2 linked regions of the Homo sapiens genome follow. The protein of the gene in region 1 purifies or fractionates together with the protein of each later gene. This does not show direct contact. Each region holds a gene or a part of one and is shown on either strand. Other genes may lie near its edges.

Region 1 (4,532 bases):
CTGCACACTATTTGGGTGATGTTACATCCGAATTACAGTTTGCTGCCCAGGAAATGATTCACTTCACTCAAAAATGACCGGGGTTCTGAATCATTCACCTGTTATGCAAAACGCCTTTCAGGTCAACCAATTTGCACCTCGTGGACTTCACCACCATCATTTCACAGAGAGCACAAAGATGAGGCAAGCCTTGCCTCTCCCATCTACATGTTTCCCCAAGGAAAAGCATGGCAGCAATTCACTCCCACCCCTCCACACCCCGCCTTACCTTGAAGTAGCTTTTCCCCTTCTAGAATATTTTGGGAGATTAATGCCGTGTAATCATCTTCAGAGAACCCAGCCTTGCAGGTCTCTCTAGTTGTAAGATCCTCATTATGGGCCTGAGAACACAAAGGGGAGAGTGTAAAACAATAAGTTCACAGAAATTTAATCCAACCAACATTCATCCAGGGCCTGCTGTGTAAAAGGTCTCTGGCTAAGAGAGAAAGGCTGGCAGGCCACCGTCTCCACCCAGACGCGATACCCCGTCTGCTCCTCTGCTCTCTGGGGACTTTAGGGAGCACTCTCCAGGCTACAGACCAGGAGCATCCTTCCCCAGCCCCACACACAGCAGGCAGGGAGTGAAGGACGGACTGTTGGGGAAGCCAGGCCGGCCAGGGCCTTATTGGCAGAGGAGACGCCTGAGAAATGACCAAAAGGCAGAGACAGAAGACTTCAGCCGCTGCTCCCGAAGCCACTAAGGGCAGGGAGGCCAAAGTGTGGGCGGCTCTGCTCAGACCATTCGCGCTTTAGGCCCACCGCTCTGCGCTCTTGGTAAGGCGGAGGAGGCAGCTTCTTGTCTCCTCTCCAGGTCACCGGGAGGGAGGAGAAAGAGGAGAGAAAGGAAGAAGATTCTCTAGGACTAGGTCCGGAGCCGGTCGAAGAAGGCAGCTCTGCGGGAGGCTGCCGGTGGCTGGGGTGAGGAGGCAGTGGGGGCGCTTCCACCTTCTAGTCTTCAGCCCGCATTTTCACCCTCGGAGCCCCCATCTCCAGCCCAGGCAGGGAGACGGCTCCCCTAACTGACCGGAAAGGGGGTCTCCTCCTGTCCTCCGGAGCTCGCTCGCCTTTCCTGCTCAGTGGGGAAGTCTAGAGCCCATGGCACAGGGCCAGGGAAGGATGGGGTGGACGACAGGGCCCTCCGACCAAGCTTCTGGGAGGGGGCGTGACAGGCAGGAGGAGGTGGTGGAGGGAGAGGCAGTGTGTGCAAGCGGGAAGCCAGCCCCGCTGAAGGAGCAGGAGCACAGCGGTGCTTGGCTCCCCGGCGAGCGCAGGAAGCCTCGGGTGCAGCCCGCACCGGGCAGTGGCGCCTCCCGCCCGCCGCCTCCTCCAGCTCCGCGCGCTGCCGTCGCCCGCCCATGCTTCGACTCCGGAGGCCGCCCCCAGCCCGGAGCTCCAGGCTTCCCGACGCCGGCACCGCGGAGGGCGCCCCTCTACCCCCAGCACCGAGGGAGGAGAGCGGGACGCAGGGTCATTCCTTACGAAAAGCTCTAAACCGCGGCTTTCTTCATCGGCCACGAAGCTCCAAATCGCACCCGCAGCCCGGTGGGAGGCTCAACTCGCCCAGGAAAGTTTCCGCCCGCCCGAAGCGTGTGCCCAGCGCGTCCCCCAGCGCCCCGCGGCCTCGGAGCGGGCCTCCCGCCGCTGGCACTTGTTTATTTCCGAGGTTACAACAGCGCTGCCCGGGAGAAGGCAGCGAGGCCGATCGGCCACGAGAGGGGGTTCCTGCAACTCCCGCCGCCCCTCCGCCTCCGCCCAGGGGCGCCCCCGGAGCCGCCGCGCTCTCTGCCCCCGCGGGCCGCGCACCTCGCCAGGCGCAGAGCAAAGCTGGCAATCCGGCCCGCGGGGCTCTGCAGAGGCAGCGGGAGACCCGCTCGCCCTCCCGGGGCGCCCTCCCGCGCCGCGCCCGCCCGGCGTCCGGCTTCCCGGCCCAAGCCCGGCCCAGCTCCCAGCCCCCGGGGCCCCGCCGGACACGCAGGCTCCAGCCCCGCCGAGGGCTCGGGGGTGAGAGTGCCCCGCAGTCCTACCCCGCCGCCCACCCGCAGCGCGGGTCCTGCCGGCACCCACAGAACTGAGCGGCGCCGCTAGACGGACCCCCAGGCCTTGGGCAGGAGAGGTCGGGCAGGCGCCCCGCACTCGCGGATCCCTGGCCCGCAGCCGCCGGGCGCCCCACGCCTTCAGCCACGGCCGGGGCTGGGCTCGGCAACTCCCGCGGCGCGCGGCTCCCGGGCGATGGAGGGCGCGCCGGCTCCGCCAGTGGAAGCCTGCCCCATGCAGGCAAGCCGAGCTCCGGGTAGCGGCTACGGGCTTTGGGCGTTCGAGGGAGGCTCGGCGGGTCCGGTGCAGGCGGAGCTCCCCGGGTCCTCCACCGAGCCCCACTCCCACCCTGCTCCGCCGCTCCCCGCTGCCCAGGCGGCTTCCCGCTCCTGCCGACCGCAGGCAGCTTCGCCGAGCGCGGGCGCCGGGCTGGATGCAGCGGGGAGCGCGGCGGGGGAGCCCGGGAGAGCCCCGCCGGGTGTGTGAGCGCCCCGCGGGATCCGGGGACGACCTCCCGCTGCCCGGGGCTTCCGAACGGCGGGGGCGGGAGGCGGCAACTTACCCGGAGCGCGCCGGAGAGCGAGAGCAGCAGAAGGAGCACGCCGGCGCCCGCGGTCATCTTCCCCGCCGCCCGCCCGGTGCCCGGCACCGGGAGCCCGCTCCCTGCCGCCGCCGCCGCCGCCGCCGCCGAGACCACCGCCGCCGCTCCGATCGCCGCCGCCGCCGCCGCTCCCCCGCGCCTGCCCGGAGCCTCCAGCCCCGCTGCGCCCGCCGCGCTCGCCGCCCCGGCTCCGGGAGCCAGGCCAAGTCCGGCCGGCGGCGCGTTCCCTCGGGCCGGTGCGTCCGCCGGCCTCGCAGCCGCCCGCGCCTCTGTTCCGCGCGCTCGGAGCTGCAGGTGAAGCCGCGGCCGCCCCGCCGAGGCCCCGCCCCGCCGCCCGGCCCCTGCGCTCGCTCTGCCGACGCGGGCCTTAAAGGCGCAGAGCCCGCGCCCGCGCCCCCCGCGCCGCACCAGCCCAGCCTCTGCCCTCCTGGACGTCTGGAGCCGCCCGGTTGCGGCCGAAGAGGCCAAGGACGCTCGTTTTCCAGGGGAAAAAGGCGCGGGTGTGGAGACTGAAGACAGCGCTGGGGTTTCCGCCCCCACACCCGGGGCACCCTTTCTGGATGGGGCGGTCCCGCCGCGGTCTTAGTCCGACTTCCCGCCCGGGCCCGCGGTGGGAGTGTGCACTTCCATTCTGTCCTTTTATTTTTCAGGTGTCTCCTTGCTAACTCCCCTGACCCGGGCTTGAACCCAGGTCGGGCAGCTCAGGGGTGAGAGTTTCCACCTGGAGCAGATGAGCAGAGGGCCACGCTGAGATTTCAGCCTGTGGGGCTTTGCAGACCCTCCCGCTCCTAGGAAAACTCAAAGCCCTGGCCTGGGCTAGGGATGTACCCTAGGATTGGGGACGGTAGTAATTCCTGTGTGTGCATCAAAACACCCTGTTAGGCCTCAGAAGCCAAGAAAGAAATTAGAAGCTCCAAGAAAGAAAGAAGTGCCCAGACAGGAGCTGTCAGGAGTGTCTGCGCCGACAGGCTGGGCCAGCTCCAGCTCCCTTTGCCCTGCATGGGTGATGGCTGAACTGGGGGGCACTTCTTTAAGGGTTATCAGGTAAAATATATGTACAGGTCGGACAGTGAGTAAATGTTTCTGCACTTTTCCTTTTGGCTTGGAGATTTAAAGAAACGCGGTTTTGTTTGTTCAGATACATCGAATTTTCTTTGTCTGGGGTTTCAGGGACTCTGTGTCCAGAATACATTAGTTCTGGTTTAAGAAATAGGTTGCAAAGGAGAGGGTGGAAGATTGAGTGACACTGTTGAGCTCCAAGATCAGAGTCCACTTGGGCAAGCCAGTAGAGAAAGCTACAGAGCAGCCGCTTCCCTCTCTCCCTCCCAGAACCCCCACCCTTGGGGGCAGGGTGGTCTCCCGGTTAGAGCTCTGCCTTACGCTTAAGGAAACCAGATTTTAGATAACCCCAGAGGACCAGAGTAAGCACTACATCCGAGAGCACAAGGCGAGATTCGGTTTTGCAACTTAACTATGGAACTAGTCAGGAGACACAAAATCTGCCCCAGCCTGGACTCCTATCAGTTATGGCCTTGTCCCACTCCCCACCTAGCCGAAGAAGGAGAGGTTACCAGTTGACATGGCTGGAGGTTTAGACTCACTCGAAGGTCCTGCGTAGCCAGTGAGGTTTCATGAACAGATCCATCCAAAATCCTCATGGACAGAGAATTCCATTCCTCGGCCATGTGCCCGTCCTTTGGGAAGACGCCCCCTCTGCTTTCCTCCTTATTCAAGGTGCTTCACCACTGCTCGAGCGACATCAGAAGCTGTCCAAGACTGCTTTAGACACCAAGACAGCTCTCTTGTCTTGTGTCCCTGGTCTATTTTCTTAAAATATCTGTCGCTGGGGATACACCTT
Region 2 (3,804 bases), on another chromosome or scaffold:
TAAGTGATCCACCCGCCTCAGCCTCTCAAAGGGCTGGGATTACAGGCATGAGCCACTGAGCCCGGCCTGAAAGGCATTCATTTCTGATCAGGCTTCTGTTGAGGTGGCAATTGTCAAAGGGGAAGGAGTAAAATCTCAGAGGAGAAACATTGGAAGATACCTATATCTTTGCTTGAGAATGAAAATCTAAATGGAACTTCAAAGAACTGTTTTGTTGTTTGTTTTTTAGAAAAAAAAGTCCCAAAAAAGAAAAGAGAGAAGATAATCAATTCGATGCCCAGGAAGCCAAATAGACTTTACATAGAATTCTTTTTAATGCAACCAAACAAATGGTCAGGATTCTTCCCAATATCTCAGTCAACAATAATATACACTCTTTAAACTATGAAATGATTTCAATTTGATACAATGAGCTTATGTTAGATTTTATTAAACATATCTTGGCGGTCTAGTAAAGATCTTTAATATTTAATTTTATGATGTTCGATAACTTAGAAAATGTGAATGCTAGAGACAATGAAGCCATTTACTCCATAGGGTATGTATGCTTTGTGTTCGGAGTAGTCTATAATTTAATTTAACTAGCTCTTATTTCCTTTTCTCCAAAGAAGGTACCAAGACACTATAAATTAATTGAGACTTTTTTAAAACAGTAGAATAAGAAACAAATGTGAGATGAAACTATGAATTTTGAGGCATCAGGTAAAAATGGATCAAGACATTGAGAGCTATAACCTCCAAACATGAAAGTTTGTTTGAAAATATCTACAAGTGCTTACATTGTTTAATAATCATACACTTTGCTTGCCTCAACAAGAAGTTCAAAAGTACTATTAAACAAATAGAATTTAACTCCAGTTTACAGAATTCATCTATAATACCTCTATTAGTTCCTTTAAACAAAATTTATCTACTTTGTGAATGCAAAGATAACTATGGATTATTTTGATAGATCAAAACAGAATGTCCTTCAAAGTGTTCCCTGTATTCTGGAGCAATGCCACCAGAAAGCAGAAATAGGTTACTTAGGAGCCTCCCACAAAACGAAGTTAAGCTTTCTTAGTGTTAGTTCTGGATTCTCCTCCTGGTTCCACCAACTACTCTCCAGGACCTAGAAGAATTTACAAACCAAGACTGTTTCTTGCCAGGTCTTTATTCCAGAGCAGGTCATTCTCTTTTATTCTGCAACTATGTGAAAGGAGCTTTCTTTTCTTTCTGCTAGCAGAGGGTAGCCTCGGATCCATCAATAATTTAGTTTTACTCTATCAACATCAGTGGAGAGACGAGTACCTCTAAGGATCCTGTCAGGACAGTCCTGCATTTTGCTCAAATGCTGTCTAGAGATCCCTGTTTTCTCAATTACACTAGAATAGAGTAGGATGAAGATTTGAATTGCATACTAGGATGAAGACTTGAATTGAATTGCATAATGAAAAGAATCAGCCAATCCATTATCCAGTTTCTTATGAATTCACAGCCCAGTAGGATCTCTGCAGATTTCTGCCTTCTGTAGAAAATGGGTTGCTTCTATAGCTGATTGCTGCAGCCAAGACAAACAACGATTTCTTTCTTTTTTTCTCACAAGACTGGGAGTGAGAATATTTGGATTCCGACATTGTTCTACTACTATATAATCAATAATCAGGAACAAGGCAAGGCAATTCCCTCTTTCTTTCTTTCTTTCTTTCTTCTTCTTTTTTTTTTTTTTTTTTTTTTGGCAGAGTTTTGCTCTTGTTGTCCAGGCTGGAGTGCAATGGTGTGATCTCGGCTCACCACAACCTCCACCTCCCGGGTTCAAGCGATTTTCCTGCCTCAGCCTCCTGAGTAGCTGGGATTACAGGCGCGCGCCACCACGCCCGGATAATTTTGTATTTTTAGTAGAGACGGGGTTTCTCCATGTTGGTCAGGCTGGTCTCAAGCTCCCGACCTCAGGTGATCCGCCCGCCTCGGCCTCACAAAGTGTGGGATTACAGGCGTGAGCAACAGCACCTGGCCCCCCCTCTCATTTTTTAAACGGTTAAAATGAAGGTGTTAGACCGTCTCTAAGGTTCTATACAATCAAAAATTTATTAAAATAGGTCTATATATTTTACAACAATTTTGACTTTCTGAATCTTGCATCATGGTGTCTAGAACATATGTGTTCAATTAATACTGAATTAATTAAAATTTATATACACTGATGTAAATATTTTCTAAGTAAAATCTTTCATATGTATTTAAATAAAATTTACCTTTTTGCCTTCAATAACTGATTTTCCCATGTGCAATAACGTGTGAGTCAGTGCCCAAAAGAGTCACTTGAAAGTTGCAAGGCAAAGCAGTTTTTTAAAAATTATCTAAGATTATCAAACACCGGTCCATGAACACTGTTGCATTAATTCAGTGTCTTAAAATGGATTTTTAATTATCAGGGATATCTAGAGCAAAGAAATCTAACAGGGAAATTTTGAAAGATGAAACAATTTTCTATGAAATCAGTGTATTGTGTGCATCAATGTGGTGCAGTAACTTAGTAAGGACTCACAGCGCCGCTGTTCACCAACCAGGGAAAAATGGTGCGAGAGATCCCACAGAAACCACCGAGTTTTACAGCACAGAGAAACGACAGATTGCGATAAGCCCTCTTCCAGGCTGCACTAAACTCAAGCCTCTATCCTGCTGGATTCTGAGCTCCCCTTCCTAAGACAGAGGGGTCCACCCGGATACACCCGCATTCTGAAGCACTTCCCGAGATCGGCGCCTAAGCAAGAGAAGCAGGACGACTATGGCGGCTCAGCCGAGGGGCGGGGACTACAGAGGATTCTTCCTGCTCTCCATCCTCCTGGGGACCCCCTGGGAAGCCTGGGCAGGACGTATTCTCTACTCCGTGTCGGAGGAGACGGACAAAGGGTCCTTTGTGGGAGACATCGCCAAGGACCTGGGGCTGGAGCCCCGGGAGCTGGCGGAGCGCGGAGTCCGCATCATCTCCAGAGGTAGGACGCAGCTTTTCGCCCTGAACCAGCGCAGCGGCAGCTTGGTCACTGCGGGCAGGATAGACCGGGAAGAGATCTGCGCTCAGAGTGCGCGGTGTCTGGTAAACTTTAACATCCTGATGGAAGATAAAATGAATCTTTACCCTATAGACGTGGAAATAATAGATATTAATGACAACGTTCCAAGATTCTTGACGGAAGAAATAAATGTAAAAATAATGGAGAATACAGCTCCTGGGGTTCGGTTTCCGTTAAGCGAGGCTGGGGATCCAGATGTGGGCACGAACTCCCTCCAGAGTTACCAGCTCAGCCCCAATCGCCACTTCTCCCTGGCTGTGCAAAGTGGAGACGATGAAACTAAGTACCCGGAACTGGTGCTGGAGCGGGTGCTGGACCGGGAGGAAGAGCGGGTTCACCACCTGGTCCTCACAGCCTCTGATGGCGGCGACCCGCCCCGATCCAGCACCGCCCACATCCAGGTGACAGTGGTGGATGTGAATGACCACACGCCTGTCTTCTCTCTGCCTCAGTACCAAGTAACTGTCCCCGAGAATGTGCCAGTGGGTACAAGACTGCTCACGGTACATGCTATCGACCTGGACGAGGGAGTCAATGGGGAAGTGACATATTCTTTTCGGAAAATAACTCCTAAACTTCCAAAGATGTTTCATCTGAACTCGCTTACAGGAGAAATATCAACTTTAGAAGGATTAGATTATGAAGAAACTGCCTTCTATGAAATGGAGGTTCAGGCTCAAGATGGTCCTGGTAGTCTGACAAAGGCAAAAGTACTGATCACAGTTTTAGATGTAAATGATAATGCTCCAGA

What was found.
Region 2: the proteins of CDH4 (region 1) and PCDHGA6 purify together in Homo sapiens (co-immunoprecipitation; one large-scale study listed by IntAct). This does not show direct contact.

What each region holds. Positions count from the first base shown.
Region 1 is NC_000020.11:61,250,674-61,255,205, reverse strand, and holds the start of CDH4 (cadherin-4 isoform 1 preproprotein), read right to left. Parts: upstream 2,946-4,532; 5' UTR 2,693-2,945; coding exon 2,636-2,692; intron 1,609-2,635; exon of another isoform or gene 1,519-1,608; intron 1,127-1,518; exon of another isoform or gene 1,064-1,126; intron 381-1,063; coding exon 269-380; intron 1-268. UniProt on the Homo sapiens protein: Cadherins are calcium-dependent cell adhesion proteins. They preferentially interact with themselves in a homophilic manner in connecting cells; cadherins may thus contribute to the sorting of heterogeneous cell types.
Region 2 is NC_000005.10:141,380,133-141,383,936, forward strand, and holds part of PCDHGA6 (protocadherin gamma-A6 isoform 1 precursor), read left to right. Parts: intron 1-2,609; exon of another isoform or gene 2,610-2,767; coding exon of another isoform or gene 2,768-3,804. Other genes in the region: PCDHGA7 (protocadherin gamma-A7 isoform 1 precursor), read left to right, coding at 2,768-3,804. UniProt on the Homo sapiens protein: Potential calcium-dependent cell-adhesion protein. May be involved in the establishment and maintenance of specific neuronal connections in the brain.